3 separate regions of the Homo sapiens genome follow, and regions 2 and 3 are each linked to region 1. Evidence: fine-mapped expression QTL. A gene starts in region 1. Each other region holds a variant in brackets. All regions are shown on one strand. Distances are from middle to middle. Region 1 holds the start of NUP210L (nucleoporin 210 like). Region 2 holds the start of LOC101928009 (a long non-coding RNA gene). Region 3 overlaps CHTOP (chromatin target of PRMT1).

The links.
Region 2: its variant is fine-mapped to the expression of NUP210L in minor salivary gland (GTEx, PIP 0.95).
Region 3: its variant is fine-mapped to the expression of NUP210L in whole blood (INTERVAL, PIP above 0.99).

Annotation. Positions count from the first base shown.
Region 1 is chr1:154,151,154-154,159,338 of GRCh38, reverse strand. It overlaps NUP210L (nucleoporin 210 like), which reads left to right and starts at 4,266. Exons shown (of 40, transcript NM_207308.3): 1 at 4,266-4,497; 2 at 6,467-6,603. The coding sequence starts at 4,295. It also overlaps a transcript of TPM3 not described here. RefSeq lists a silencer at 3,148-3,325 and enhancers at 3,932-4,432, 4,433-4,933.
Region 2 is chr1:153,166,383-153,174,567 of GRCh38, reverse strand. It overlaps LOC101928009 (a long non-coding RNA gene), which reads right to left and starts at 50. Exons shown (of 3, transcript NR_110685.1): 1 at 1-50. It also overlaps a transcript of SPRR2G not described here. The variant T/C (reference allele first, on the strand shown) is at 4,719.
Region 3 is chr1:153,640,981-153,649,165 of GRCh38, reverse strand. CHTOP (chromatin target of PRMT1) reads right to left here. Exons shown (of 6, transcript NM_015607.4): 4 at 6,737-6,920; 5 at 5,802-5,939; 6 at 2,860-4,102. The coding sequence ends at 3,897. Among named protein-coding and RNA genes, the nearest start is that of CHTOP, 11 kb to the right of the region's middle. The variant A/G (reference allele first, on the strand shown) is at 4,117.

The DNA of each region.
Region 1 (8,185 bases):
GGGAATAAATATTGTGAAGGAAGCATTTTTTCTCCCTCAAAATGTTGTCCTACCAACTTGTCAGTCTGAATTTCCTCTGTTGGTCTTTCCACCAACTGACTGACTCTTATTGCCCTCTATCTGAATCCTCCTTGCATCCACCCTGCCTTACAGATGCATGTTATATATACCAGCTAGTTGAAAGACTCATAATTTACTTCTGGTACTCTACTAACTTTCCCTTTTTCTCTTTCTCCTCCTCTTTTTCCTCTCCTTCTCTTGTGTTCCCCTCCTCTCCGTTGCTGCTGCAGAGCGTCTCTACAGCCAACTTGAGCGAAACCGCCTGCTTTCTAATGAGCTGAAGCTAACGCTGCATGATCTGTGTGACTGATGGGCAGGGCTCAATGATGCCCATTAAACTGAGCTTACTGCTCACACCACTGACCTGGACCCCAACAAAAAGCTGATTGTCTTTTTAAAAGTTATTATTTTGCCCTGAGCAAATTGCATTTTAATTGGGGCAGTTAGAATGTTGATTTCCTAACAGCATTGTGAAGTTGACCATTGTGAAGTTTCTGTCCCTTTAGAAGAGATTATGGGTGAAGAAGGGAGGGGCCTGAGAGATTATAGTGAGAAAACTTGCGAGAATTTTGTTTTCCACCCTTATTTGCTGCTCTTTCACTTGGGCACTGACTGTAGGATATGTTCCCTTGCATGGATGTTTTTAACAATAAAAGGACTGACTTGACAAGTTGTTGTAACTGCTTCATCGGCAGGCCCAGGAATGGGTCCTTCTGACTGGGTGGAAAAAAGGGAAGTGAAAGAAAAGTTGTGGGATATGAATATGGGTCTGTGTTGCCATCACCTTCTCTGAGTTGAAGATTTGAGTATTTTCCTCACCTCTTTAGAGCAGTCAGAGTGGTTTGCTTGCTAGACAGATTAGATTCTCCTTAATGTTCAGCTGCTGATTTTCTTTCTGACTTTTGCGTCCTTTTTCTGGTTTTATGTTAATTTCAAGTAACTGTCACAAGCTAGTTCTGTTCAATAGCTCTGCAGCAATCTCAAGGTTTGCTTACAACTACTTGTTTCAGTAGTATTCTTGGCTTTGTTTTCTTTAGAGATTATTTGACTTAACTGTGAGCGCCCTTTTATTTATCCCATCAGTTATTACTTTGGCCTCTACTTTTTCGAAAAAACATGTAGTGCATGAGGATCTTCCTGTGCTCTTTATAATCTGAGATTCTGATGTTTCTATTGTTTGCAATGTTCAAACTCCGGTGAGCCATTTCAAGAGGGTATTGTTATGTGGGCAAAACCTAGAAAAGTGGATGGCTGATGGTTAAGGCTTGCTCTTTCATTGACTGAAAGCTGAAAGTGTTGGTTGGGTGTGGGAGGGAGAGGAAATGGCTGATAAGGGCCCTAACTCCCTCACCCAGGAAGTGCAGCAACACCTACAACTTCAGTAGGCAAGCCAAAGGCCCTACAAAACTGGGTGATGTAATAGCTCACTTCTGTGGCTGAGAAGGCAGCTGCTTTATCAGTCTGCAGCTTCTCTGCAACAGGAGCAAGTCTCAAAGAGCGGGTAGACCTTGAAATTTACTTCTAGTTCTTGTAACTTCTCTCCTTTACCCCCATTAGATAAACTGAAATGCACCAAAGAGGAGCACCTCTGTACACAAAGGATGCTGGACCAGACCCTGCTTGACCTGAATGAGATGTAGAACGCCCCAGTCCCACCCTGCTGCTGCTCCTCCCTCTGACCCAGACTCCGCCTGAGGCCAGCCTGCGGGAAGCTGACCTTTAACTGAGGGCTGATCTTTAACTGGAAGGCTGCTTTCTCCTTTCACCACCCCCTCCTTCCCTGTGTCTTTTTCGCCAAACTGTCTCTGCCTCTTCCCGGAGAATCCAGCTGGGCTAGAGGCTGAGCACCTTTGGAAACAACATTTAAGGGAATGTGAGCACAATGCATAATGTCTTTAAAAAGCATGTTGTGATGTACACATTTTGTAATTACCTTTTTTGTTGTTTTGTAGCAACCATTTGTAAAACATTCCAAATAATTCCACAGTCCTGAAGCAGCAATCGAATCCCTTTCTCACTTTTGGAAGGTGACTTTTCACCTTAATGCATATTCCCCTCTCCATAGAGGAGAGGAAAAGGTGTAGGCCTGCCTTACCGAGAGCCAAACAGAGCCCAGGGAGACTCCGCTGTGGGAAACCTCATTGTTCTGTACAAAGTACTAGCTAAACCAGAAAGGTGATTCCAGGAGGAGTTAGCCAAACAACAACAAAAACAAAAAATGTGCTGTTCAAGTTTTCAGCTTTAAGATATCTTTGGATAATGTTATTTCTATTTTTTATTTTTTTCATTAGAAGTTACCAAATTAAGATGGTAAGACCTCTGAGACCAAAATTTTGTCCCATCTCTACCCCCTCACAACTGCTTACAGAATGGATCATGTCCCCCTTATGTTGAGGTGACCACTTAATTGCTTTCCTGCCTCCTTGAAAGAAAGAAAGAAAGAAGACTGTGTTTTTGCCACTGATTTAGCCATGTGAAACTCATCTCATTACCCTTTTCTGGGTTTGAAGCTGCTGTCTCTAGAAGTGCCATCTCAATTGTGCTTTGTATCAGTCAGTGCTGGAGAAATCTTGAATAGCTTATGTACAAAACTTTTTAAATTTTATATTATTTTGAAACTTTGCTTTGGGTTTGTGGCACCCTGGCCACCCCATCTGGCTGTGACAGCCTCTGCAGTCCGTGGGCTGGCAGTTTGTTGATCTTTTAAGTTTCCTTCCCTACCCAGTCCCCATTTTCTGGTAAGGTTTCTAGGAGGTCTGTTAGGTGTACATCCTGCAGCTTATTGGCTTAAAATGTACTCTCCTTTTATGTGGTCTCTTTGGGGCCGATTGGGAGAAAGAGAAATCAATAGTGCAACTGTTTTGATACTGAATATTGACAAGTGTCTTTTTGAAATAAAGAACCAGTCCCTCCAACCCTCAGACCTATTTGACTTTTATTTATTAAAACTAAATGTGCTTTCTCCACAGAAGCTATGAGGTTTGGGTTAAAAATAGCATCTTTGTGGGTGGTAGCAACAGGATTTATTCTTTATTATTATTATTTTTGAGATGAAGTTTCATTCTTGTTGCCTGGGCTGGAGCGTAATGGCTCGATCTCGGCTCACTGCAACCTCCGCCTCCTGGTTCAAGAGATTCTCCTGCCTCAGCCTCCCGAGTAGCTGGGATTACAGGCACCTGCCACCATGCCCGGGTAATTTTTTATATTTTAAGTAGAGACAGGGCTTCACCATGTTGGCCAGGCTGGTCTCGAACTCCTGACCTTCAGGTGATCCACCTGCCTCAGCTTCCCAAAATGCTGGGATTACGGGCGTGAGCCACCGCACCCAGCTGGAGCAACAGGATTTAATATAGAGCAAATGTTTAGTTTTATCATCTGTAAAATGGAGATAAGTATTGTCAGAGTAAACATGAAGATTAGAAAGAACACTTAATGTGCTGGGCCTTTTATAGGTTAACACTGACATCTCAGGCTGAACTATATACATTTTCCTTCACAACCATATCAATCCTTATAAACTATGGATTTATGCTCCTTAAAACAATATATAATGCTGATCACTACTATAAATGCGTGGTTTTAACCAACTGTACTGAAACAGCTTTGAGTTTATATTCTGTTTGGATATTTGGAGAAAACAACAAGTGCTCTCAAGAGTATTTGCTTAGAGGCCGGCTGTGTGAGTGGATAACTTTGAAAGCTGCTTTTGAGACGCCAGTGTCTGGCATTTCCTGCATTCTGGCCTGGAGGCCGGACGTGAATCTGACTTCTAGTAAAAATACACGGTTCCCTTGACAAAGTCGAGCTGTTTATCCCAGAGACTGCACAATTTTCCGTTGATAGGCATGGACCAATGCTAACTGGAAATCATTGCAAAAAGTTTTTTTGTCGGGCGGAGGGTGTGGTGTTAAGATAAACAGTGTGCAACAGAAGAAATTAAAACTGGAAGAAATTAAAGGGTTTTTTTTAGACTTTTCTGCTTGTTCCTTACTGTTAAAAAGGTCTGCCATCCAGTATTTAGGAAAGCCCTTTAAGAGAGTTTGAGGTGTTTTAGCTGGGTTTGTGCCAAAAGTTTCCATTATATTGGCTTGCTGAAGGACTGCATTTAAAAATGCCCACACATCCGAGCAAGAAGCAGGTCCCATCCCCCTCTGCTGACGTCACGCCTGTGGATTGGCTGATGGAGCTGTGAGCCGGCTGTAGTTGAGCGGGAACCCGAGACCTGGCAGTCGCCATGACTGGCTGTCCGGCGTCATCAAGACGCCGAGGCTTCGGGCTCTTTTTCTTCTTGCGTCTACACCGCCTCCTGTTGTTGTTTCTGGTTTTGCGTGGGACCCTGGCCAACAAACTTAACGTGCCACAGGTGTTGCTACCCTTCGGCCGAGAGCCAGGCCGGGTGCCTTTCCTGCTGGAGGCCCAGCGGGGCTGCTACACTTGGTGAGGGGTGGTGGGTGACAAGGATATGCACCCTCACTACCATCCAGTAAGGGTGAGGGGGGTTCCCTCTGTAAGATCCCACAGGAATACCGTGTGGGGCCGCGTGAAGGGGCCTAGCCGGTAGGGGAGGAGAGTGTGGTGTCAGTGAAGGTGGCGAGGAGCAGACCCTTGGGTGTGGCGTGTCCTACTCATGTGGTATATCCTCCAGCTGTGTGACAATCTTCCAGACGTGTGAGGAATTCTCGGGATGTGGGACTGGCCTCTTCTCTGTGTGTGTTGGGAAGGGGTGGTCACTATGAGCAGCCGTCAGGGTAAAGGGAAGCCCTGTGTTGGAGGCCACAGGTACTGATGACTTCCAATGTAAACAACTAGAGTAAGAGGAAGTTCCCCATATCTGAGGAAATTTCTGTAGGAACAGGAAAACTTGGGGTGCGAGGGTCCCCACTAACTATAGATGAGCTATTCAATGTGAGAAGGACTTAAAACACAACAGCCAAGTATTGGGGGTTAACTAAGCACTTTACATGTGTTAACTCATTCGCTTTTTGCAGTCTTATGAAGTAAGTACTATTACTCCCATTTCACAGACGAGGAAAGTGAGGCCCAGAGACTATGAAGTGTAAACTTCTGGGAATATGAGAAGATTTATCGTGGGTGGAGATGAGATCTGTCTGTATTATCAAAATTGCCCCATTTATAAAAGGGTACCCGCTTGAAGTGTGAGGACAGGGGGTACACACAACTCCGGGATAATGACTTCCTGACTGAAGATGAAGAGACATGATTTTCTGGTGTGAGAGGACCCAATGATGGGTTATGTGGTTGCCTAAGGTATGAGAGAACCTAACCGAAGTGAGCTTCAGGATGCCAGTGCATTCATCCTAGATGGAGTAGATACCCCTTTGCCATCTCCTAGGAGAAGCAATGAGGTTTGTTCCGAGTATAAATTCACCTCTCATTTTATGAGGAAGTATAAGGAAAGTGAGCTTGTAAGATGATCCAGTGTGACGTGTGTGTTTCCTGACCGTGAGGGTGATGCAAGGCATCTTTCCAGCATTGAAAGCCATTTCTTCTATCACTCCAAAAATATTAATGAGGCCAGGCATGGTGGCTCACGCCTGTAATCCCAGCACTTTGGGAGGCCAAGGCAGGAGGATTACTTGAGGCCAGGAGTTTGAGACCAGCCGGATCAACATAGTGAGACCCCGTCTCTATTTAAAATAAAAACATTCGGCCGGGCGCAGTGGCTCACGCCTGTAATCCCAGCACTTTGGGAGGCCGGGGCAGGCAGATCACTTGAAGTCAGGAGTTCAAGACCAGCCTGGCCAACATGATGAAAGCCCATCCCTACTAAAAATACAAAAATTAGTCGGGCATAGTGGCAGACACCTGTAATCTCAGCTACTCGAGAGGCTGAGGCAGGAGAATCGCTTGAACCCTGGAGGCGAATGTTGCAGTGAGCTGAGATCGCCCTGCTGCACTTCAGCTTGGGCAACAAAGTGACTCGGTCTCAAAAACATAATAATAAATAAGAATAAAAATATTTATGAATGTTTTTGGTATTTTGAGTTGGACTCACACCTCATAATTTAGGCACCTTTTCCATCCTAGATATCAGAAGCCTGGTTTCTAGGATTGAAGGAAACTTTCCTCAGAGTATGAGAAAGTCCCCTCTCATTACTAGAAACACATCAGTCGTATTTCTGCATACTGAGGGAAGAATATAAAAATCTTTTAAAAAAAATTGAGGGAGGGATATTTCTGGGACTTTGTTCAAGGGATCATTGGGAAAGTTCTCATCAATCTCTCAGTTTAATTATCGCATCCCTAAGCAATGTTCCTTCTTTAAAAAGTGTCATTTACATATACCTGGTAGTATGTAACATGGAAGAAGTGTGAGAATCTATGTTCCACTAAAAGTTAATTTTAACCCACCTATTTCACACTCTTAAGAATTTTGTTCTGGCAGGCATTCCACCCATCATGATGCAGTTACTGTTGAGCCTTTATATGAAAATGGCACCTTGTGTTCCCAAAAAGCTGTACTCATTGCTGAATCTACGCAACCGATACGCCTCAGCAGTATTATTCTTGCTCGAGAAATAGGTATGTTGAGAGCAAAAACACTATGTATCACTTCTTCTGGGGTAGAATAATCTGGTATTTTGTATAGATAGTTAACACAAATGGTGTTGGCTTCAAATGATCAAAGGGAGAATAAATGATTCCTAGCTGGCTGCAGTGGCTCACGCCTTTAATCCCAGCACTTTGGGAGGCTGAGGCAGAAAGATTGCTTGAGCTCAGGAGTTTAAGAACAGTCTGGGTAACAGAGTGAGACCTATCTCTACAAAAAAAAAAAAAAAATTATGGCTGGGGGCGGTGGCTCGCGCCTGTAATCCCCCCACTTTGGGAGGCCGAGGTGGGTGGATCACCTGAGGTGGGGAATTTGAGACCAGCCTGGCCAACATGGTAAAACCTCGTCTCTACTAAAAATACAAAAAAATTAGCCGGGCGTGGTGGCGCACACCTGTAGTCCCAGCTACTCAGGGAGGCTGAGGCAGGAGAATCGCTTGAACCCGGGAGACACAGGTTGCAGTGAGCCAAGATTGTGCCACTGCACTCCAGCGGGGCGACAGAGGGAGTCTCCATCTCAATAAAACAAAATAAAATAAAATAAAATAAAATAAAAATGAAGAGTATTAGGCAGGATTTTCATTTTTTCTTTCTTTCTTTCTTTTTTTTTTTTTTTTTGAGACGGAGTTTCGCTTTTGTTGCCCAGGCTGGAGTGCAGTGGCGTGATCTTGGCTCACTGTAACCTCTGTCTCCCAGGTTCAAGCGATTCTCCTGGCTCAGCCTCTTGAGTAGCTGGGATTACAGGCGCACTGCCACCACACCTGGCTAATTTTTGTATTTTTAGTAGAAAGGGGGTTTCTCCATGTTGGTCAGGCTGGTCTCAAACTCCCGACCTCAGGTGATCTACCTGCCTCAGCCTCCCAAAGTGCTGGGATTATAGGTGTGAGCCACCGTGCCCGGACAGCATTTTCTCTTTTTTTAGAGACAGGGTCTTGCTTTGTTGCACAGGTTGTAGTGCAATGGCACGACAGTAGCTCACTGCATCCTGCCTGGCCTGCGCAACACAGTGAGACTCCATCTCTACAAAACAATAATAATAAATAAATTAAAAGAATTTTTAAAAACCACCTAAAACCTATTCTTAAGTGGACTTTGCAATTAGATAGAACTAATCTATTTTTGTTTCCAGCTTTGGAAAATTTCCTAGTACATCTGAGTCATCACTTTTCCCCCACTCCCTTTAACCTTTTGGTTCCTAGGGAATAAGAGTCCTCTGCTATTTTTCACCAGATTTTTTTCCAACTACTAACACCTATTCTACAAATTTTGTTACTGGCCCTCTTAATGTTCTCACATGTGCAGTCAGTGACAACTATATCTTGACTGCTGCCTGGCTGAGAGGACTTGTAAGATGTCATCAATTATAAGATAAATCCCAATTGCAGAGATGTTAAAAGATAAAAAACGAGTGTCTAAGAATCAATGAAATATGGTATGATAGTCTCAAACATAAGAATCTTTGAAGACCATGTCATGCAGGGTAGCTAAAAAGGATAGAGAAGGATACGAAAGTCAGAAAAAACAAAAAACATTGATTTGGTCACATATGCGATTT
Region 2 (8,185 bases), 980 kb after region 1:
AAGAGGGTCTCCTTGCAGAAGACATTTTGCTGGCAGGGGTGGTGGCTCCCTTTTGCGGCTGGCTGAGGAGGCAAAGATGTGTTCCTGGCATGATGTAGCAATGGTGGAGCAGTCGCTGTGGCAGTAGAACTTCCTCACCAGGCTAGTTTTGTGGTGTGGTTTTTGGACATTTCCCCTATATGCTTAGCCTCAAGCCTGGTTCTGCGGCTTTTCCAAGAGTTCTATAATCTACCCAATAATATTTTAATAAACCCTTTTTCTGTTTAATCAGTCAGAGTGAGCTTTTGTTGTTTGTAATTAATATCCTGAGATGGTACAAAACTAAATGCTATTAATTACACAGTATTAGCCTGCTCTTTAAATTCTACTAAAGCAACATCATGAAATTGGAGTTCTTGGAAGAGTGACCAAAGAGGAAGAAATAGGTCTGATCAAAGCTTTTGTTCATAGTTGGCTTACATATGGGTTATGCCAAACATTTGTCAACATATAAGAGAAATGTATGTCCCTATAACATTTCAAATAGACTCTTTCATAGGGCCTTCTCATAGATGAATTTCTGAGCCCATCTGCTAAAAATTAAACTATAACAAAGTAAAAAATGTGAATGCCTCTGAATTACTGAGTGAATCTTTCCTGCCCCATCCTTTATGGTGTGAAAGAATCTGTAAAATTTCCCGAGGAGTCCATGAGCAGGTGGAAGAGTGGCCTAGGTGGGGAAGAACCAAGGCATAAATGATTCTTGAAGCCAGTGAGAGACTTGAGTCTTGCCACCTCCAACCCCATGGAAGGAACTCCCTGGAGCATCACTGACTCAGGACTTCTAGCCTCTGCTCTGACACCTCCAGTGACAAGGAGGGAACCGCTCTGTAGTTCAGAGCAAAATTCTCCTAAAGTAACAGAAGTCACTGGGAAGCACATTTCAGTCCAACCAAGGAAATAGTTTCTAAGTAAGTTCATTAATAATAAATCTGGTTGCCTCCCTTGTACAGAGCACTCTATTGTGGACAGACTTCAAGCAGAGGCTGAAAGACCATCAGGAGGTATTTTAGAGCAGATTTCCATTCAATATGTGCTTCTGATCCCATGATTCCTTTTCTTATCTGAGATTTTTTTTTCTGTTTGACTTCCCTTTAGAGCCTCCATCATTTCCCTCTATTTATTTCCCTCTCTCTGTAGGACAACCTCCATATTTATTTCCCTCTGTCTGTAGGACAACTTCACTCTTTCTTATTGTCCAAACCACAGGCTCTGAAAGAGCAGCCAGGGAGTAATCGAATATCACAAGCCTGGGGGTTCTGGAAGTGTTAGCCATGTTCTGTCCCAAGGCCTTCACTCAAATTCTCAGGTCTGTGTCCTCATTTGAAGACTGTTCTTTGTGGTTTCTGAATAGCTGGGATTTGACTTCAATTTAAGTGAAGTAAGCCCTCTTGGGGTTGTAGAAAGAACGTGAGATAGGATGTGAACATGTGGATGCTAGCTTTACTGACATTAACCAGCTGTGCTGTCTGAGTGAAGTTCCTCAGTATCTCCATGACTTTATTTCTTCATCTCTAATATTGAAGACTTGTAAGAGTTCCAAAGTTAATTCTAGAATTATATTATGTTTGTCCGCCTGTCTATTTATGCACTTAACTATCCTAATTCTTTAAAACCCCACCTTGAAAAAAGTGGTCACTGTCAGTCCAACCATACAATCTTCTTCCGGCCCAGATGAAGGCTAGCCCAAGCCCTAATGGAACTCTTCTCTCCTTTTAGGGATAATCCCAGTAGCTGTCTCTTCTTCAACTTCCTGCTTCAGAGGATTAAGGTGGCATAAAAAGTAATCTTGTACCTTTGATCCCAAGCACAGTCAAACTTTTGGAAAACAAAAGGGTTTGCCCCAGTTTTCCGTTTTTTGGGTGCCTCATTCCAGTTACTAATGTGATGTGTCTAACTCTTTTTTTGTACCGGAAACTCCAGTTTTGCAGGTATTGAGTGACTAGCAAGGTTTCCATCTCCTGAGGAAGGGTAGCCTGGGAGAAAGAGGACACAGAAGCCCTTTCCCACAGTATCTCTGGGGTCTCTGTGGGGGCAGCCAAAGGAAAGGTGCAATGAGGTGCATTGGGGGCAGGACTCTTGAGTGGGGGAAGGATGTGTGCAAGGACTGGTAGGTGGTAGGTTAGTGATAGAAGACTTGAACTTATGTTGTAATGCTACAGCAAAAGTCAACCGCATGAGACCAGACCACGTATTGTGATAGGTGCCACCAGGAAAGAACTCTGTGGAATTGATAGATAAAAAGGTTCATTAGAAAAAACTAAATGGGACAGTCTGGAGAAGTAGACCTGGTCTTCTGAGCATGAGAGTTATAATTTAAGGATAGTTTTTTCAGTCAGGGAGTGTTGATAGACCCTGGAAGGTGAGAGGTGAAGTAGAGTGGAAGCCAATTCCTGGTCCTCTCATGGGACATGGCTTGACTGTCACTTGTCTCATGTATTCAGGAGGATGCTGGATACCTGAAGCTGTAGGTCGCTCCAATTTCAATGGAGGATTAAAGTTGAGTGTAAAAGGAAATTGGTAAACCAAAGAAGAAGGTCTGAACAAGTCCTTAGTACATGGCCAAAGGACAGACGTAGATACTGATAGCTGGAGTACAGGGCTGGGGATTCGGGGGGCATGGGAGGGGAGGGCAGAAGCATTGGGCAGAGCTCAAGAGGGGAATTGTGGTCTTTGGGTAATGTTAGACATCCACTAATTTCACTGGTTGATGTGTTTGCTTTGTTGTATTATTTGGTAGGGAAAACTGTGCTTATGGAACCATACCTGGGCAAAAAAAGAGACTTCACTATCTGTGCCAGGGAGATGGGACCACCATCTGTTGGCAGCTGTGAAGTTGAGAGGTGGCTGTTCACCAGAGATGAATACACAGGGTTTCCAGTCAACTTTCAGCATTTTGGTGCATGATACCCAAGCCCTAGCCAGTGGAAAAAGTGAGCAATTATCTGCTGAAGAAATGTCCGTAGTGGTGAGTGGTGGTAGGCTGGGTGGAGGAAAAGCGGTGGCATGTGCAGTGGAGATTCAGGTACTGAAAGGGTATATGGTGTGATCACACAAGTCCGTATAACCCAAATTCTCAAATGTCAGTCTGATGAATGAATACAGGGAAGCATTCCTGGGGAGGCGAGTGGGTGTAAAGGCTCCTGTAGTCCAAGAATCTTGAATGTTTATATGCAATCCATTAGCTCAATAGTAGCTGTAATTGTTATTTACTCTCTTTTTGAGTTTTAGTGTTTGTGTGTGGTAAGACACACCTGTGTTTCAAGTAGTCCCAGGACGGCCGGGAAAAGGGTGGAGGAAGGAAGGGTGTTTACCTGCTCATATTCAGAGAAACTAATTGCCTGGGAAAATTTAGGCTAAACCAATGAAGATGAGAGAGTTTCAACATTTCAGTCATACTGGCATTTAAGGCAGGTGTGAACAAATAAACACTAGTGACAAGAACAGCCTTGCCAAGCAAAGTACTCTTCCGTGAAAAGAGGGAGGATTGACCCTCCCATGTGATGTCACTGCCAAGGCCAAAGAGGGTGGAATGAGCTGATCGTGGATCCTGGATCTTCTAGGTCTTTGAGAATTTCTGTGTCAGTTGCCCATGATACCCTGTTCTTCCTCACTTGTTGGCCACCTCTCTGAGTCACTGACCAGCCAGTGCTGATTTACTTAGGTGGATTTGTGGGGTCCTGGCCTGAATCACCATATGCAGAGGTGGCTCTCAGAGGGTGGTGGGCAGCCGTGGGGAGGTGCAGGGAGGTAGGACCTTTGAGTGGGAGAAAAGCAAGTGAGGGGCCTGGTATGTGGGTCTGTGGGATCCTGAGCTGATTTACCATATGCTGGTTAATTTTTAAAATCAAAAGTATTTTCTTTTGAAGCCATGGAATACCTCTCTTATCTCTCTATCAAGCCCTTCTTCCACCTTTTCTTCTTCCCTCCTTTCCTCTCTCTTGTCCTCTTGCCCAGTAGTCTTCTGGAGTTGATTCCTAAACCCAGGTCTACCTTTTCTGCCTGCTCTTTGCAACTCATAAAGCTTTTGTTTTCTGTTCATTTTTCATTGCCATACGCTGTTTTTGTGTCCTTGAAGTTGGCTTTTGTGTATCACAAAGATGATTTAAGGCACACTTTGGTTTACAAAATTTATATTTACTTTATTAAAGTTACCAATTATACAGCTTTTTGTGAGCCATAAGTTAGATAACTAATGTTATTAATTTAATTAAAATTCTAGAAATTTGTGTAATTTTTTCAAGGAGCTTTGGAGTAATAATTGATCCAGTTAACAACTTCGGTTAAACTCTCTTAACAACTTAAACTGAGGTTACCAAGTTGATATCCTCAATTTTAGAGTACTTTAAGTCTCCCACTGACTAATACAATTCCAAATACATACTCGAAGAAAATTTATACATCTTTTGATTCTTATGTTTTCTTAAGCATTTCAATGCTGTTTAGAAACCTAACCAAATTCCATTACACTTTGTAACTTAAAATCATGTCTAAATAAATTAATTAGTTATATTAGTTAATATAAACTGTAAGACTGTGAACTGAAGAATGATGAAATTCATATATTTGGAAAGGAGAGCTTTCTTTCCATAAAGCGGTTCAGTCTGCAAGGCAGCCATTCTGACATACTTGGAAACACAGTCTCCAGCCAGAAGCCAGAAATACAGATATTTGGAGGG[T/C]GAGAAGAATAAGGCAGGAATTTATGCTGAATGGCGTGGCTGAATATACATGTTGAATAAGCTATAGGAGGAGTCATGAATATTTGTGAAAGGAGAAATGTGCACATACACAATTGAGCTTCATGCCCTGGGTTGTTCAAAAAATGGCAGTGTTAACATGATGGAAGGCTGAAGTTTTCAGCCTTCTGACATTAAAAGGTGAAGTGGAGGACATGAAAGTCATCACTGTGCATCCTCTGTTGACTGGCCAGAACCACTTTGTGGTTGGTGGCTTTTTTTTTTTTTGAGATGGAGTCTGGGTCTGTTGCCAGACTGGAGTGCAGTGGCATGATCTCAGCACACTGCAACCTCTGCCTCCCGGGTTCAAGCAATTCTCTTGCCTCAGTCTCCCGAGTGGCTGGGACTACAGGTGTGCACCACCATGCCCAACTAATTTTTTTGTATTTTTAGTAGAGATGGGATTTCACCATGTTGGCCAAGATGATCTTGATCTCCTGACCTCGTGATCCACCCACCTCAGCCTCTCAAAATGCTGGGATTACTGGCATGAGCCACCGCGACCCCGGCTGGTAGGTGGCCTTTTATCAGGAAGGAACGTCGGTCTACTGTTGTGTTCAAAGGCAAAAGGGAGGAGTAGTCACAAGGTTGGTTGAAATCATTGGAGAGCAAGTCTTTCAAAAGGGCTGGTTTCTGTTTAACCCTGAGGGAAGAAAGCCTAAAGGTGGTTAGTGAGGGAGGGAGTATAACAAGGCACTTCCAACCTCTCATTCTGTAATGCTAGGAACTCAGTTTTGAGGTTTCTCTGGGGCCCCCTTGGCCAAGAGCGGGTCCACTTAGTCAGTTGGGAGGCTTAGGATTTTATTTTTGTTTCTCAAGGCTGATTTATTTGATGATCTAACATGCCAAATTTTACATCTTACACACACACACACACACACACACACATACACTCATGAGTACACAGTCAAGATGACAGTTGGGATTGGCATCCAGATAGGGTGCTCTCATAGCCTATGCTCTTCTGATTCAAATTGCACATTGACCAAGAATTCCCTGTTGTCCAAATCTGCATCTTCCTTCTCAGGTTTTATCTGATTTCGTTTGGTACTTATTTGGATTTTTCATTGCTGGGGGTATTTTAGCATACTTTTATGTTCTCTTCAATAGTTCTAAGAATGTATCAATGCCTTTCCATAGGATCATTCATATGCTTATGTAATTCCTTCAAAACTTCTTTGAAATTTAAGAATTTCGGATAATATAAAATAGCATCTAGTAATGTCCCAAGCAGATAATAAGCACTTAATAATTGGCAACTATTATGATTCTGCTATTATGATAAAAATAATAACAGTCAAAACCAGATTGTTATAAATGCCAAAATATAGGTACAGAATTAATGAGACTGTGAGGGAAATCAATTTCTGTGGCATTCACATGCATGTCTTTCTTGCTGTAAAACTGAAGCTCTGTGCTGAGTTGAGCTCCTGATATACTTCTATGTGATGTAAGATTCAGTGAAAGTTCTATCAAGACACAACTGAAGTGGAACTTTGAGAGACCAATTCCCAGACTGCTTGTTGAAAATAGATAAAGCTATGGGCATTGCATTGAGCCTTTGGTCTAGGAGGTTCTTCTATGGAACTGAGTGTTTCCAGAACTGATGGTGCTTCAACAGTTGGTGGAAGAGTCTATTCTTTTTGGTTGGTGTTGATAACTATGTTATATAAAGCATTCTTCTCTCCTAGTGATATTATTTTTGAGATGTTAAAGTAAAACAGATTCTTCTTTGATGGAGACACTACTCAGAGCACCAAGAAGGTGATTTAGAATATGGCATTTCTCCTGCTCATGGGATCATGGAACCATTTATACTCAGGTTCTAATATTTTATAAGACATGGGGTAGCAAATATTAGGCTAATGTATTAAGATAATTGCCATATTATTAGCAAGTATTACATGATTAAATAAAATGTATTTTTTGTTGAATCTTCTTAAAAACATTACTATATTATTGTGGTGGAGGGCAAACATGACTTTTGGTCCAAATGACAATGAAGCAGGTAAGATCCAAAAACCTTTATTATCATTTAAAATTATTTACTTGTAAGTTTACATATTTTGGCTTATATCTTCTATAAGAAGATAAGGTCAGAGAACTTAAATGTTTTCTGAGTTATCCTCCATTGTACATTCAGCATCTAGCAGAGTAATAGTTAAGTTCCACCTTCCTAATCTCTAATCATTAAACAGATGTAAAACAAATTTATATGGTACCAATACAGTAAACATATCAAAATAACTTACTGTAATTGCCAAATTTACCCTACCTAGTTTAGAGATTTCTTTTTCTTTTTCTTTTTTGTTTTTTTTTGAGACAGAGTTTCAATCTTGTTGCCCAGACTGGGTGCAATGGAGTGATCTTGGCTCACCACAGCCTCTGCCTCCCAGGTTCAAGCGATTCTCCTGCTTCAGCCTCCCGAGTAGCTGGGATTACAGGCATGAGCCACCACGCCTGGCTAATTTTGTATTTTTAGTAGAGATGGGATTTCTCCATGTTGGTCAGGCTGGTTGAGAACTCCTGACCTCAGGTGATCCGCCTGCCTTGGCCTCCCAAAATGCTGGGATTACAGGCATGAGCCACCACGCCTGGCCAGAGATTTTATTTTTTTTCCAAAACAAAGGGTCTCTTATTTATTTCTTCAGATCATTAACTGCAGTATGGCATGCCAAGGTTATTAGGATCCAAATATCTCATATATATTTTGAGCCTTCTGTGATGGTGGTGGTGGAATCAAAGTAGATTGCATCAGGGTCCATTCTGATTATGCCATGGTTCTGGATCTCGGCCCCTCTTCTCCATTCCAACTTATGTTCCCTTTATAGACCTTTGTCAATTTTCAAGTGGATTTTTTTTTCCTAAACACTTTTATGAAGAGATCAAGTGGATTTTTACAGTTCTTTTAACTGCCCTCAAATTCTGTGATACTCAACTTCCTAAAGTGCCAAGCACATCAAGATATTTTCTGTCTCTGTGTGGATGGTATCAGTTGTCCCAAGAGAGTTTTGAGTAGGACTGTTCTTTTCTTAGATTCAAAATCCATCTTTGGTCTTCCAGATCTTGATAATGTGGGCTAATATGGGAGTGAGTGATGAATGAAATGACATATCTATTCTTGGAGATCTTCATCCCCATGATCTGGAGACTGTGAAATGTGTTGCTTCTACCTGGTTGGGTGGTCCTCTGCTGTCCAGAGGCCCAATTCTGCTTATTTGAGGGTGCAGCATCAGAGCTTAGGTATCAAGGAAGAGAGAAGAAGGGGTAGTAATTTTTTTGTTGCTGCTGATATTAGGAACACTTCCTTGGGACCAAGAGAACAACAACAACAACAACAAAAAGGCTTGTAGAAACCAGATTTTCACATGGGGTTCTTTCTCAAACAACAAAACCTAAGTAACTAAGTT
Region 3 (8,185 bases), 510 kb after region 1:
CTGAACTGGCTTTCCTCTTGAAATTAAACTCCTGAGAGTATGTGCTTTGAATTAAAATCCAAAGGGGATGCTGGGTGCGGTGGCTCATGCCTGTAATCCCAGCACTTTGGGAGGCCGAGGCGAGCAGATCACCTGAGGTCAGGAGTTCGAGACGAGCCTGACCAACATGGAGAAACCCTATCACTACTAAAAATACAAAATTAGCCGGGCGTGGTGGTGCATGCCTGTAATCCCAGCTACTCGGGAGGCTGAGGCAGAAGAATCCCTTGAACCTGGGAGGTGGAGGTTGTGGTGAGCCCAGATCGTGCCATTGCACTCCAGCCTGGGGAATAAGAGTGAAACTCTGTTCCAAAAAAAAAAAAAAAATTCCAGAGGAAAGCTTTAGGACTTTCTGAAGGAACCCCTTCCCCCATCTCCTCATGGATGTGTTTAAATCTTCAGCTGATAATCACCTTACACTAAAGGGTAAGAAACAAAATCGCCAGGCGTGGTGGCTCACGCCTGTAATCCCGGCACTTTGGGAGGCCGAAGCAGATGGATCACGAGGTCAGGAGATCGATACCATCCTAGCCAACATGGTGAAACCTCGTCTCTACTAAAAATACAAAAATTAGCTGGGTGTGGTGGCGCATGCCTGTAATCCCAGCTACTCAGGAGGCTGAGGCAGAATTGCTTGAACCAGGGAGTTGGAGTTTTCAGTGAGCCAAGATTGCACCACTGCATTCCAGCCAGGCAACAGAGCGAGACTCCATCTCAAAAAACAAAACAAAACAAAAAAACAAACCAAGACTAAATGGAGCATTTAGTGAATCCTTTAAAGAGACCTCATGGGGATCTTAGCTGTCCCAGGCTGCCCACACAATGAGGCCTATGACTGGGGGCTGCTGCCACCATTAAGGGTCCCAGAGCTGTCCAGGGCCTGTCTCCACCTTCAAGAGTCATCCTGCCCTGCTTCACAATGCTCCCCTCTCCTTCCTTCCTTGCCCCTGGTACAGGTGGTCAGCCAGGGTCCCCAGCACGTCTGACTGGGTCACTAGCCAGGGTGTGACGCAGGTGGGAGAGCCCACCGAGGCATAAGTGGGAGCCTCTACCCTAACCCCTGCTGGGTCCATGGAGCTATCTATTCATAGCAGCAGGACCACCTTTTTTTTTTCGAGATGGAGTTTCACTCTTGTTGCCCAGGCTGGAGTGCAATGGCGCCATCTCGGCTCACTGCAACCTCCGCCTCCCGGGTTCAAGTGATTCTTCTGTCTCAGCCTCCCGAGTAGCTGGGATTACAGGCATGTGCCACCACGCCCAGCTTATTTCATATTTTTAGTAGATACGGGGTTTCTCCATGTTGGTCAGGCTGGTCTCAAACTCCCGACCTCAGGTGATCTACCCGCCTCGGCCTCCCAAAGTGCTGGGATTACAGGCGTAAGCCACTGTGCCCAGCCTCAGGTGTTCTTTTAGCACTGTACCTTTACACTTGGTTCCCTCTGCTTGGTGTATTTTCTCTACTTTCCCTTGTCTTAAAAGATCCAGCTCATCAACCTCTTCCCTATGCTCCTAATGTTACCCTTACAAAGGATGCCTTGTGTTGGTATGGCAAGCCCTCAGCACATGGCAGCTGAATGAAAGGCTGACCCAGAGGAGGTCAGGTTTACTCACCTTGTCCCACACGACCAGTGACTGAGGATGACAGGGACACAGGCCTCAGGAGACCCTGGGAACTGTAGTGAGCAGTAGGTGGGGCTGGAGGACCCTTGGCTGATAGGAGAGTTCCCTGTGCCCCACATAAGCGATTTGGGGATAAATTCTTTCAATGAAGTAGGAAGGACATGGAGGTAGAAGGAAGGAAGCCTAGGCTACGGCAGTCACCTCCTTTATAGAGAACTCTTAAGCATCAGTCTCCTCTGGGGTAGGAGGGAGCCTGGCATTTTGCACTTGTTTGGGTTGTTGGGGAGGTTGGCTGGGAGGGGAAGTCCTCATGCTTTAGCACTGGAAAAGGCAGAAGGAGCTGAACTGGGGATTCAGTTCTGCAGTCACCGTCCAACCTGTAGCCTTCTGCTAGACCCCCACTGCCCATCTCCCTTGGGACCTACAGACACCCCACATCACAGGATTCAAGTTTGGGTTGTCCTGACCAAAATTTCCTTCCCAGCCCCCAGTAAGTACAACCTCCTGGCAGTTTAGGGTGAAAGGCAGCCCAATGACAACTGGCTTGGCTGGGCGCTACTAGGTTCTTTTCTCTTCAGCTCTCAACATAGGGAAAAAGGGAAATATGTGCCAGGGCCCAAGGGCCCAGAATGTTGCCCAAGACAATCTTCCTTGAGTTTTTGTGGGCGTGGTGTTATTTCTGCAGAGCTCAGAGGAAGTCAAATTCTTCACTTTCTGCTCAAAGCCACAGGCTCTCCAGAATTTTAACACAAGTAAGAAGAAAGAAACTCTCAACCATACAAGGGGTATATCAAGACATCATTAAAGTGGCTGGGTGCAGTGGGTCACGCCTGTAATCCCTGCACTTTGGGAGGCTGAAAGTGGGTCACGCCTGTAATCCCTGCATTTTGGGAGGCTGAAGCGGGTGGATCACCAAGTCAAGAGATCAAGACCATCCTGGCCAACATGGTGAAACCCCATCTCTACTAAAAATACAAAAATTAGCTGGGTGTGGTGGCACATGTCTGTAGTCACAGCCACCCGGGAGGCTGAGGCAGGAGAATCGCTTGAACCAGAGAGTTGGAGGTTGCAGAGCCAAGATCGCGCCACTGCACTCCAGCCTGGTGACAGGAGCGAGACTCGGTCACAAGAAAAAAAAAAAAAAACATCATTAAAGTAGCCATGGCATTTTGAGGCACCTCAAATAAAGAGAGTCCTGGGTGGATTTAAGCGAACAGTTTGTTATAATGAACCAGAAATACAAGATTCCACTGAAACTGAACAGTTGACAGAATATGGTTGAACTTAAACCTTCAAGGGAAACAAGGGCAAAACAAAGCTAATGAGTGGAAAAGTCCAAGATTAGTTTGGGATAAACATGAGGATATAATTGCATTTTAGCATGGCTATCTTCTGACCTCTTCCAGCAGTTCGTCTGCCATCATTCTCCCTTCTGACACACCTACCAAATCAAATGGCTTCTGATCCTCTATATTGCAGTATAAACCAACCCTATAGTACCCCTCTGGTCATGATACAAACCCAGAAGGAAAGTCTGTAAATCTCATACAAAGGTAGAAAGTGCAATTCAACCCAACACGCTGGTTATGGTATATGTGCTGTCAATGTACATGGTAGCAACTTGAATCAAACCAGAGCTGCTACCACATGTAAGCAACCTCTTATGCTGCCCTGTAGTGATGTCAATGTTCTCAGTTTACTAAATTATCAATGTGGAAGAACGCATTTTTGAGCTCCAGACCTTCTAAACATTTTAAACAGGCTATCGAAGAGGATGTAACAGAACCCTATTTCAGAAACCTAAGGATCAGGGAGGAAGGAACACTGACCGGTTTTTCTGGGATGTTTCTGTGGGGGCAACAGGGATGAACAAAAGAAATGTTAGCATGTCAGAGCATATGACAAGTGAGGGGAGACAGAGGTAGGAAGAGGGTGTTCTAGCCACAAGGCTAATGCATTTGTGTTCAAAGAGAAGTCTGGGCAAAGGAGGGGAAACCCCCCCTCCCCCCTAAAAAAACAAAAACAAAAAACCAAATCAAAGGACAAAAGGGTTTCATACAACACAGTATCAAAAAGTAAAAGGAACACACTAAATGCACAAGCTGGTGGCAAGTAAGTCCACAGCCTATTGTGATAGGTCCATCCAGCATCAATCAGATTTCTTCTCATCTGTTATCTCAAGGTTATTTACAGATGTGTTGACTAACAAGAGTCTCTCATGGGAGGATGGGCAGGCTTCAATCATTGGTTTCGGGATCTGTCTGCGCCATGTAGGCATCCAACTCAGCATCCAGGTGTCCTTTTGTTTTCGACATATATGCATCCAATTGGTTGTCCAGCTGCTCCTTGGTCAATACAGGGCGAGCAAGGGCACCTCTCCCTCGTCCACGGCCTCGGCCTCGGCCTCCAAAGCCCCCTCTTCCCCGACCTATCATACCCCGACCTGGCCCAAAGGGG[A/G]AAAAAAAAAAAAAAGAGACAGTTACAAGTAAGTTTAATAGGTGCTGTAGTAAATGCCCCTTAGAGCAGTGGGGCCTAGCTGAGAAAAGCTGAAGGGCAGGGCAAAGAGGAGAAATCTGGAAAAAAAGGAAACACAATGGGTAGAAAGCAACACATGGAAAGCACACATAATGAATCCTCTATCACATGATCATCTCTAAATGCTATTTTAACAAATTTTATTCTATCAATAAAGGAAAATAATTAACTGGCAACTATAATTTTAAAAAACCTTAATCAATCCTAAGATAAAATTACCTAACATTTGAGATTCACTAAGTTCATAATTAAAATACATGACAGATAACCCCATTTGGTAAGATAGGGAGGTGGTAACAAGAGCACAGAGCATCAGGGGTGTGAAGACAAGACAGTTTTCAAATTAAGTTTATTGGAGACCCTTCTGGAAAGTCATCTCACCTGTCCTTAAACTTATCAAGTCTAATGAGCTAGCTGACCTCATGTGTCAGGAGACTGAGTTTTTCTGACACAGGAACAATGTAGGGGAGATTTGAAAAAATATTTTGAGTTGTCCTAGCTATTTCTACCTTTAATTCTAGTTACCTTATGACAACTGACAATTGTGGTTATCTGAGAAGCAGTGTGAATTCAGTTAACAAAACAAACTCAGCTTTTTGAAAAGCTATTTTAGTCTCTCCCACCCTCGTGATGTCTCTCAGGATCCAAGTCAAGATAATTTGGAAACATGTTATTTCATCCTGAAACCCAAACTAGCTTGCACTTCACTCAGTAAGTATCATATAATGGGAGAGAAGAAAACAAGCCCTTGGTTATCAACTTTTCTTTCCTAACAGTTATTATTCCTTGGCAACTTCAAGGTCATAAGTTATGGAAGACCCAAGACACCTTTTAAGAGAACCAAAGCAAATATACACAGGGGCTTCAATAGTGTTTTTTTTCTGGACAGGTGTTGGGAGTTTTCCACTAAGCTCTAAACCAGAAGGCTCCCATGAGATTTAGTATTAACAGCAGCAACATCATTAAACTCTTTCCCAATCTGGGTCATGAGGTCACAAGACAAACATCAATAAATTTCAAAGGCAAGATTATCAATAAGAGCCAGTTAGTTAACTGATAATAATTCCATCTTGCTCTCTACCTTAAGCAAAAAAAGTCATCTCTGGTTCTCCACAGGCACCAAATGTGACATTGAATTTATTTGGTTTCAGAGCCAATGCCCAGCTCCAAGTCTCACCACCCTCTTAACTCTACTTCATCTTTGTATCTCTCTCTCTCTTCTATATTCTCATGTGACTCAAACCAGGATTTGGAGCTACAGGGTGGTATGTGGTGGTGATGGTGGTGGGACAGGGGCAGAGAAAGGCAAAACCCTAAACTGACCATTTTGGGGGGTATTTTCAACTATACAATTTAAATTTGCAAGAGCTTGGAGGAAGATGGCATATAATCTGGCTCTATAATATGCACTTGATTGATTCTTGGAAAAATCATGAGACTTTTGCACTACCAGCATGGTAATTTGAAAAATAAGCCAGTTTCAAATAACAAAACAAGACAAACAAAGAAGCCTGCCTATGACTTGAAGCTGTGCAGAAAGGTGGCTCTGAGTTTTTAAGGGAGGAAAGTAAGGGGGAGCTACTCTCTGAAGTTGGTAGCTGACTAACCTCTACCACCGATTCCGCCACGACCCATAGCTCCACGCCCTAGGCCCCCTCTCCCAGGACCTCCACGACCTCGAACACCACCTCTTCTTAAGCCCATTCGGGGAGCTACGGCTCGTCCACCTCGGAGCAGGTTTTGACCTTAGAGAGGAGGCATACAATGTATATGCAGGTAAATCCAAGAGACACAAAGTAGATTCTAACCAAAGGAAGGCGGTGAGGGTTAAATGAAGGTAATTCAGTTAGTTTTTAGGTTGGCTGGGGCAAGCTGCATACTGTGAACAGATTAAGCTACTCTTTATTCAATCAATTCAACAAGTCTGACCACAAATCCATTTTTGGAAGTTGGGAGTTAATTCAATTAGTAAGTACATACATTTAATAAATATCTACTGAATAATCAGATAGATGCCTAGCATTATGGTAAATTTAAAAATAAATGCTATGGTTCCTGATCTCAACAGATTCTTCTAGGGAACAAGAACTATACAGGGAACAGAGTAATAGTGCCCCAAATGAACATATATAGGTAAGTGCTGTGGGTCAACTTGTCCTCTTTTTCCAGCTGTATCAGTGTTTTACTAGCACCAGGAACAAAGAGATATAGGCCAAAAGACCTATAAATTTCTTATGTTTGACTTGTTTCTAGAACTTGAATGTGCTTTGATTCAAGCAACAGCAGGGTGTTTTAAAATGGAATGGAGATGACATGAATTACCTGTTGTTACGCAGGTCATAGCCTCTCACCATTGCACATTATCAGAAAAGGAATGGTATTGATAAAAGACATGCAGCACTATTAAAAATATGTGATTTCAGAAGTTATTATATTAATACAAATTCAGGCTTAAAGATGTTAAACAAACGTGTCCATAAGCAGCCCAAGAGAAAAGGGAAGGGAGTAGGGCCCGACAATTATCAGGGTACACAGCACTGACCTCGGAGTGACATCCCGCCCCTAAGTAGGGTTCTGGTGGCACGTCCCCCACGTAGTCCTCCTCTGGGCAAGCCTCTCTGGATTATGGGTAGGCCTCGTCCTCCGATTGCTCCCCTGGCCAGGGCCCCTATGGGTCGGCCTAACCGTGCCTGGATGTTACTCTTACCCAGGCGCTGCTTTAAGCTCTTCTGGAAGAAAAGGTGTTAGGGGATTGAGATCAAAAAAGCAATCCAACAGGATTTGGCAACTCAAAGTGCAGAGAAAAAGAAGCAAGTGAGATGCTGGTGTGAAGGGAGATAAACCTGTTGTGGGTGTCAAAAGGATCCCAAACCAGAAGCAAGCCTTTGCCTCAGAACATGTTATACAAGCAGCAGAATTTTGATCCAGAGCAGAAACTCCAAGAAGCTCAAGTGTGGTCCCATGAAATGGGCATCTCCACAAATTACCTCACTAGTTTGGCTACAGAAGTCATACACTGCCAGTTGAAACTTAAGTTTTCGTAAGAACATTCTATAGTTCAATCCTGGATTGTACTGCTTTTGAACTACAGGTTGACAATTATATGACTTGATTCATACCTGCCCATGGACTACCACTGTCTTCAAAGGCTTACTCAAACACCATAGGAAGTTCATCACACTCTGGGCAAAACTTAAATTACAAGTTCACTTGAGTTCTTGTGACTTAAGAACAAGATTGATTTCTCAAAAAGGCCCGTGTGCTCCATTTTTCCTCTGAGAATCTATTTCCAGACGGTCCACTTTTTACCTTAAGATGTAAATAAACACAAGAAAGTCAAATCTCCTTTCCTTACATTTCTTAAAAATCCCTAATTCCATGCCTGCACTTGCAAACAGCTCCTTTAAAACAATGATGACCTTAAATTAAAAATAAACATGTAACTCAAATGTATCTCCACAGTCAGCCAGCCAAACGTATGTTAGAATTATTCAGGTGATCACAAAACTCAGGGCCATATATAAGAACAAGGACACACTACAGAGATAGGGTATTTTTAAGAATCTGTTCTCAAAAGAAAACCATTAAGACTACATCTCAGAGAATTAAATTCCTTCAAAGGAAAAAGGGACAGCAATAGCCCTGAACACAACCAAGCTCCTAGTAAGCCTGGCTGTCCATAAAGCCATCAGTCAATCTGAAAGAAAATAAATTGTATAGCCCCTTCAGGCTTCACCCACAAGTGACTACCAACGTGTATGTGTGTGTTTTCTAATCAACCTCTCAAAAAGATGCTGTGAAGCATTATTAACTTTCTAGCACAAGATCATAAATTGCTTCTCATCAGTGGGGAAGGCTCCAAACATTATGCATCTAGCATAAGTAGGTGTAACCAACCGTAACGGCCTGTCCTGTTACTCCCGATTAACACACAATTATCAGGTTAGAACTGCATTCCACAAGTCTCTTGCGTTCAGTTATCCTGCATATA